Regions from separate parts of the Homo sapiens genome. Here all the other regions are linked to region 3. Evidence: fine-mapped expression QTL. A gene starts in region 3. Each other region holds a variant in brackets. All regions are shown on one strand. Distances are between the middles of the regions. Region 1 overlaps PAQR5-DT (PAQR5 divergent transcript). Region 2 has its middle 29 kb from the start of GLCE. Region 3 holds the start of GLCE (glucuronic acid epimerase).

The links.
Region 1: its variant is fine-mapped to the expression of GLCE in CD4 T cells (BLUEPRINT, PIP 0.95).
Region 2: its variant is fine-mapped to the expression of GLCE in blood mononuclear cells (TOPMed, PIP above 0.99). The same link has a PIP of 0.9 or more in monocytes and whole blood.

The regions. Positions count from the first base shown.
Region 1 is chr15:69,285,225-69,287,983 of GRCh38, forward strand. All of the region lies in intron 2 of PAQR5-DT (PAQR5 divergent transcript), which reads right to left. Among named protein-coding and RNA genes, the nearest start is that of PAQR5-DT, 12 kb to the right of the region's middle. The variant A/AACACAC (reference allele first, on the strand shown) is at 1,451.
Region 2 is chr15:69,130,278-69,133,036 of GRCh38, forward strand. No RefSeq gene overlaps it. Among named protein-coding and RNA genes, the nearest start is that of GLCE, 29 kb to the right of the region's middle. The variant T/C (reference allele first, on the strand shown) is at 1,527.
Region 3 is chr15:69,159,574-69,162,332 of GRCh38, forward strand. It overlaps GLCE (glucuronic acid epimerase), which reads left to right and starts at 1,062. Exons shown (of 5, transcript NM_015554.3): 1 at 1,062-1,184. It also overlaps the pseudogene LOC100421574. RefSeq lists an enhancer at 724-1,224 and silencers at 922-1,131, 1,332-1,441.

The DNA of each region.
Region 1 (2,759 bases), 130 kb after region 3:
TTGAGCCTGGGGAGTTGAGGCTGCAATGAACCAAGACTGCACCACTGCACTCCAGCCTGGGCAACAGGGCGAGACCCTGTCTAAAAAAAAAAAAAAAAAAAACAAAAAACAGGCCGGGCGCGGTGGCTCACGCCTGTAATCCCAGCACTTTGGGAGGCTGGGGCAGGTGGATCACGAGGTCAGGTGATTGAGGCCATCCTGGTTAACACGGTGAAACCTCGTCTCTACTAAAAATCCAAAAAAAAAAAAAAAAAAAAAAAAAAAATTAGCCGGGCGTGGTGGTGGGCGCCTGTAGTCCCAGCTACTTGGGAGGCTGAGGCAGGAGAATAGCGTGAACCTGGGAGGCGGAGCTTGCAGTGAGCCGAGATTGCACCACTGCACTCCAGCCTGGGCGACAGAGCAAGACTCCGTCTCAAAAAAAAAAAAAAAAAAAAAAAGGCCCAGGAGGAAGGGGTACAGGAGCTTCTCGGTAGCTGAACACGTGGGGTTTACGGAGAATGCTGCATCTGAGGAGGACATGAAAATTCTGTCCCCCTTCCCCATATCTCACCCTATGTGTCGCCTCATCGGTATCCTTTATAATATTCCTTATAATAAATCAGTAAACATAAGCAGTGTTCCCCTGAGCTCTGTAGAACCGCTCCAGCAAATTAATCAAACCCAGGGGGAGGGTAGTGGGGACCCTGATTTATACCTGCTTGGTCAGAAGCACAGGTAAAACAACCAGGGGCTTGCGGTTGGCGGCGGAAGTCGGGGGGCAGTCTTGTGAGACTGAGCCCTCAACCTCTGGGATCTGACGCGGTCTTTAGGTAGAGAGTGTCAGAACTGAATCGGAGGACACCCAGAGCCCTCAACCTCTGGGATCGGACGCGGTCTTTAGGTAGAGAGTGTCAGAACTGAATCGGAGGACACCCAGCTGGTGTCCACTGCAGAACTGATTGCTTGTTTGCTGGTGAGAGAAATCCTCACATATGTGGGCACAGAAGTCTTCTGTGTTGATTGTTGTGATGTGAGAGCAGATAAAAAACATTTTCAATTTGTGGCTTTTTTCCACTCACATATCTATATTCAAAACAAAAAAGAAAGGATCTCACATACCCACACCTTACACAAAAATGAACTCAAAATGGATTATAGTCCTAAGTGTAAAACATAAACCTATGAAACTTCTAGAAAATATAGGAGAAAATATGTGTGACCTTCAGATACTAAAGGAATAATCTATAAGAAAAAAATGATAAATGAGATTTTATCAATATTAAAAATGTTTGCTCTGAAAAAAAAGTGAAAATGAAAACACAAACCACAGACTGGCAGAAAATATTTACAAATCATATATTTGACAAAGGACATAAAAAGACTCAACAGTGAGAAAATAAGTACATTTTGCCAATTAAAAATAGGCAAAAGACTGAATAGATACTTCACCAAAGAAGAAATGAGAATGACA[A/AACACAC]ACACACACACACACACACACACACACACACACACACGCAAAGATGCTGAACATCATAGTCTAAGGGTAATATAAATTAAAACCACAACAAAATGATCTAAATACTCAAAAATAAGTGATTAGTTAAATAAATTAGGGTGTATTTGTGCAAAAGGTTATTATCCATCCCTTAAGAATTATGTTTTGCACTTTAAAATAACATGAAAAATAGTTTTGGAAAAATGTATTAAGTAAAAGAAAGAGAATTTAAAGATATACACAATATTAATCCAAACTTGAAGGAAAATTGTGTATATGTTACGTACATGTGTTCAACAAACACTGAAATACATTAAAATATAAACAGGCCTCATTTCTGGGTGTGGCAATTATAGAAATTTCATTTTTTTTCTTTCTATTTCTTAGACTTTTCCTAAATATTTTCCAACACACACATATTATTTTTATAAATTATTTAAGCGATGAGAGAAAAACATAGACATATATCTGAGCCCCCCCTCCAGTCATCATTCAGCCCTTCTTGTAAGAGATGCCACTGTGGAGACCCCCAGCAGTGGAAGTCATGTACCTCAGTTTTCCCTCTCAACAGCCTTTCCCAGAAGCCTCCTCTGGCTCTCAGCTCTTGGTGCTGCTGCCTTTCCTTCCAACGGGAACGCCTTCCTCCCCTGGCCGTCTCCTTCACTGACACTCCTGCTGAGTCCCTCTCCTGGGGTGGAGGTCCCTGGGGATCCTTTCCTTCCCCTTTTCCTTCCTGGCCCTCATTCTGTCCCTGTGGGATTTAATTTACTTCTGTGGCATCAGCAAGGGCACCCAAGACACCCACATCACTGTGTCTGGCCTAAACTGTTCTCATGGGCTCCAAGCCCATCCATGCCACAGATGTTTATTGGGTATCTATAGCCAGGCTCAGCTCCAGGGTCTGGGGACCCAGCAGGGGCAATCACAGCAGAGCCCCTGCTTTCAGGGACCATGCATTCTAACAGAGGAGTCAGGCAGTAGACATATCCACAAATCAACAAGCCCATTCATACTTCAGAACCTGCATTTTAGCAAGATTCTCCAGAACAGGTGAAGGCACATTAAAGTTTGAGGCCCACTGCCCTACACCAGTGGTTCCCAAAATGTGGTTCCCAAGCAGCGGCTCTCCTAGGAGTTTCTGAGAAGTGCAGCCTCTCAGCTCCAACCCAGACCTACTGAATCAGGAGCTCTGTGGGTGGGGCCCAAAATCAGTTGTGTCCTCCAACTGATGGAGGGCCCTCCAGGGGATTCTGCTACAGTCCCATAAAGGGCTACTCAGGGCTAGGGACCA
Region 2 (2,759 bases), 29 kb before region 3:
AAGGAGGAGAAACCTCCACTCTCCTGTTCAACCAAATGTTAGCAAACTAGAAATTAGACATTAGAAGAGGAAGGTGGCTTAAGTGTGGGGGCTCCTTTGAGATTTTGATCATCGGAATTTTCTTTACCCTTCCAGGCAAAGACAGCCCTCGATGGATTCCAATCCCAAATAACCCTGCTCCAGGCTCCAGGAAACTCATGCTGTTTGTCTTCCTTAGCCTTGGCTCTTGCTAACTCACTGCATGACTGTGGGCCAGTCCCCTAATCCCACTAACTCTTAGTTTCCCCAACTGTTAAACAAGGGAATTGAACAAAGTAAGTTAACTTTGTGTTTCTTAACGTTGACTATGGAAACCCTAGACATTTGGATAGCAGGCCACAGGGGAGCACCACCTACCCACCTCCTGGTGACAGCATACCTAGATTACAGATAAATTACCCAGGAAGGACACAATAGCCTGACAAACTCAACCCACAAACACGAGTGAGGAAATCCCTAATTTAAAGAAAACAGCATTGTTAGGAAGGTTTGTCCAGCATTTAATTTGTCTCTATCCTTATGACTTTGGAAAACTAGGTGAAAAAAGAATCCCTTTAAAAAATGGGCAGACAAGTTCAAGTGACATGTGCTCAGCTTACTGTGATGCATTAATCCATCCATTCATCCATTCTTTTCTCTTTTTTTCTTTCTTTTCTTTTTTGTTTTTTAACACTTGCTCTGTCACCTAGGCAAGAGTACAGTGTTGCGATCTTGGCTCACCACAACCTCCGCCTCCTGGGTTCAAGTGATTTTCCTGCCTCAGCCTCCTGAGTAGCTGGGATTATAGGCACCTGCCACCATGCCTTGCTAATTTTTGTATTTTTAGTAGAGACAGGGTTTTGCCATATTGACCAGGCTGGTCTTGAACTCCTGACCTCAGGTAATCCACCTGCCTCGGCCTCCCAAAGTGCTGGGATTACAGGCGTGAGACACCACACCTGGCCTCATCCATTCATTTATTTTATATTTCATCTTCCAAGAATTATTTGAGGCACAAGTAACAATGCTAAAAGCTATTGCCTTGCTGCTGTAGGACAGAGTTGAGAGAGAGAGAAGAGGCAGAGGAGGGGCAAAAGAAGAGGAAAGAGAAGCAAGAATAACTGACAAGTTGCTAAGATAAAAAAGAGAAAGAAGGAAAATACTGTCCCTAGCAAAGTTTCATTTACTAAGCAAACAACGCTTGCTATTTTTCTTTGGCTCTGTTCTCAAAAGGCCTCTGCTGGGCATTATCGATTGGACAACCGGGCCACAGTCCTCCTGCCAGGCAGAATTCATCAAGGCAGCACCAGCACTTATAGGAGATGGGTTTTTTGGCCCTGATGGAGCAGGAGCCCAGCAGGTTGCTTGCAGGAGCCAGTTGGGACCTAAGTGTGCCCCAGGGAAAGGGGAAACTGCAGTAAGATGAGAGACACTAGGGTGGAGGGCTTACAGAAGTTGAGATTCACTTCCTCTCTGGGACCAGGATACTGCAGCCCTGTGACCAGGCT[T/C]CCTGCTCCCTGAGCTGGCTCTACAGCCCTGCACACAGATTGTTGGAAGGTCTTTTGATCAGCCAGTCACTCGATTAACCAATAGAGCCATCTTTATTGAGCAGTTCTCAAGGTACCCTGGGGAGGTGCTTGAACAATGCCCTCAAGGCCTTTGCTAGGGAGAAAATGTCATCACACAGTTTAAAAAGAGCCACTCTTGAAAGTGAATCAGTAACTTTAAACATTGAAGGAAGGAAAGAGGAACAGGGTGTTACTATCTGTGGCGACTGACTCTATTAGGAGAGCCGACCCAGTGGTAGGAAGCTAAATTCAAGGCTCCTAAAATTAAACTTTTGAAAAGTGAACCCTTCTTCTTCATGAAAAACAGAAGGCAATCGGCAGTGCAAGGCCATGCCTGGGAGTGAACCCTGCAAAAGACGGAGGAGGTGTTGCTTTAAGATTTCTGAAGAGGGAAAGCCCCCCTCAGCAGGGGTCCACGGGGGCCACTCAGGGAGAGGCAGAATGGAAGAGAAGATGAAGGATAGGGGAAGGGGTGGGAAACAGTCTCAGAAGAGGCTATGGCATAAGCAAAGGCAAGACCAGAAGTATAAAGCGTAGTTGGGGCCCAGAGTCATGAACTAGTGTGACTGGAGCCAAGCCTGCCCCACATTTTGGGCCTGGGAAGAGTCAGAAGGGCCCTGTGTGCAGAACCATGGAAATGCTAATAGCTCATATTTGTATGGTGCTTAATCTGTATATACAGTGTATTAACGAATGTAATCCTCAGAATAGTTCCATGAGGCAGGTACCACTATTCTCCCCATTAGGCAGATAGGCAAACTGAGGTACAGAGAGACTTAAGTAACTAGCCCAAGGTCACCCAGCAAGTAAATGGTAGAACTGGAACGTGAACCCAGCAGTCTGCGTCGCAGGCCTTGTATCCTCAGCCACTAGGCTATCCTGTCTCCATCAGGATTATCAGGAAAGGGAGCCAGAGCATGAGGAAGGTGATGCTTGCTATTTGGGACTTGTTGCTTTGAGGTGGATGCATCTACCAGGCAATTGAGAGCAAGGGCTACCACAGAGGGTGGGGTGCTTGAGAATGCTATGATACCTGCCCATACTCTTCCTGTCCTTGGGTAGGGCAGAGAGGGCATTTTGTTTTGTTTGTCAGTGAGCTGGTCTCCAGGACAAGGTTAAATATATATTAAAATGTACACACACACACACACACACACACACACACAGAGTCGG
Region 3 (2,759 bases):
TGAAGCCACTGGCTCACATTATAGAGGAAAGGCTAGGAAAGCCGAATTTTCTGGGGCCAGGTCCAGATTTAATATATTTAAGTATAACAGTCTTAATTCATTCCTTTCACCTTATTCAGTGCCCTGGGTGTGCCAAATACTACTGGGCACTGGGGTCTACAAAGGTACGACTTTTCATGTAATGTTGGAATTTGTTATGTTGGTAACTCGAGATTTGCATATATTTAACAGTCTTAATTCATTCCTTTCACATTATTCAGTGCCCTGGGTGTGCCAAATACTACTGGGCACTGGGGTCTATAAAGGTACGACTTTTCATTAATTTTGGAATTTGTTATGTTGGTAACTCGAGATTTGCTTTTCATTCTTCTGGAAGGCTGTATGTAGAAATAAATACAGTCATCAGACGAGTTCTTTGTCAGACCAGATGTCCTGGGTTGGGGTTTGGAAAACATGGGCATCTTAACAATGGTGCCCTGTTTGAGGTGGAGAGGGAGGAGAGGCCCAAATCGGGGAAAGGAATTAAATGGAGGTTTAGACGCGGGTAACCGGAGTGGGTGGGCCTTCAACCTGGAAGATGGGAATCCCCAGCGCACTTCGGGCAGCGCTGTAACCAAGGGTAACCGCACCTCGGTTTACACCGGTGTGAAGACCAGCCTCTTCCCCAAACCAGGTGTATCTACGGCGGCCTAGCAGGACCACACACAAGCCAAGCACGTCACGTCATTCGAGCTACCTTACCGCGAAAGTCCACTGCCTCCTACTACTTCTGGTCACTACTACCTTTGCTCACAGTTTATTAAGGAGGAGCGGAGAAGAAGAGGGGCGGAGAAGGGGCGGGGAGAATCACCTTTCCTTTTTTACAATTGGTCGTAGTAGACTCCGAGTCCTGCCGCCCGTCCTGCAGCCGACAGGCTGCCAGGACTGTCACTCGAGGAGCTGCCGCTACCGCCCCCCGCCGTGGCCCCGCCCCTTGCCGTGGCTGGGATCTCGCGGGAAGAGCTGCGGGCACGGCGGTGGCTCGGTCTCCCGGCTGCGCGCGGAGCGGGAGGGCTCTCCTCACACAAGCGCTTCCTTGCCGAGAGGCTGGAGCTGCGGCACCGCAGGCCTGAGCCACCCCTTCTCTGCTGTCTCCTTCTCTTCCTCAGGGCTCCCGTGTCTGCTCGCCCTCCGACGCTGCTCAGGTTAGAAAGCCCGGAGCGCGTCTCCGCTGAGGAGCGGTCGGGGAGCGGGGACACGGAGCAGCCGGAGCAGGCGGGCTCCTGACGGGGGCGGCTCTGGGGGCTGCGCGGCGCTGCCTGGTGGGCGCGAGGCTTGGCGGGGTTTGGGAGTCCGGGGGGCGAGGAGGCGGTGCAGTGGGATCCGGGCGCGGGCGCCCAAGGGCGGTGTAGCGGGTGCCGGAGCTCCCGAGGTGAGGGGGCAATGTATTAGGGATCCTGGGGGCTCTTCCGGCTTGGGGTAGGGGTGGGTGGCGGCACACGGGGTCCTAGGTCTTTGACGTCGAGGGAGATTTATCAGGGTCTTGAGCTTCTTGGAGGTGGTGTAGCGGGGTTCCGGGACAAGGGGTCTTTTTACCCGGGTCCCGAGCTCTTTGGGGCAGAGAATGCAGTTTAGCAAGGTTTACACCGGTGTAAACCTTGTCTCTGGAGGCAGATCATCGGGGTCTTGGGGGTTCTTTGAGCGGGCGTGGGCGTCCGTTTCGCATTGCTGGGATGAAGAAGCAGTGTGTCCGGGTTCTGGGGAGAGGGGTCTGTTCATCGGTGTCTCCGGGTGAGAGAGCGATGTATCCGTTCCGCTGGGGCCGGGGCCGCCTTGGGGGGTTGTTGGGGGCTGAGGGTGTGTAGCGGCGACCAGCGTCTGGCCGGGGTTTCTGCTTTGCCCGGAGCGGGGCGGTAACTTGGCATGGTCTCCAGTCTTTTGGGGGCGACGGGGCGAGTTAGCTGGCCCCCGGGCAGTCTCTCGGGGTGGGCGCGGCTCCGCAGGCGCTGGGTCCGCTGAGGGCGGGAGAGGGCTTTGGTGCTACCGCGCAGGCTGGGCAGCATCCTGAAACGTTTTTGTTCAGGTCTCCTTCTCTCTGGATGAGATTTACTCAATGCTTAGTTGGAGGATTGATCGGTGTTGTTGCCTAGTTGAAGAAGCAGTGCGTTTGTTCTGCAGTTTTCTTTTCTCTGCCCCGGGATCCCTGTGGGGGCGCGCTGGTCTCGCTGGAGCTCCGGGAGCTAGAGTGGCAGCACCTTAGGTGGGCGTTTGGTCTGCAGGTTCTTTAGGAGGCCGGTGTCCGCAGGTTGAGCGTGGATACAGCTCCTGAGCAACTGGAATCTGTTGAGGGTGGGGAAGACTGATTTTGGCTTGCTTTCCTAGGTGGTGGTCTGCTTTGCTCATCCTGCATGATTAGATCTGTTCTGAAGTCTTGCCTGAGTGAATGTTAGGCAGAGTCGGATAGTGCAGGGAAGCGTGTTCTGTCTGGCTTCTTTCTGTCCTTTGAAAAGCATTTGTAGAGAGGGATAACGTCAAATTCAGCCTCCAGAAAACAATGGAATTTGAAATCCCAAAGCTAGAACTCTGCAAAAACGTTTTCTGTGACCTGTAAGGATGGTTAATCGAGCTTTTTTAGAGAATTCTGCTTAACAGTTTCATTGTATTGTAAAAGTGTATTTAGCCTTGGATATTACAGAGGTTTTGGTAACTAGCGTAGGCGTAGGTGGGATTTAAATAAAATGACTTGTATGTATGTGTATTGGTTAAAAAAAAAAACAGCG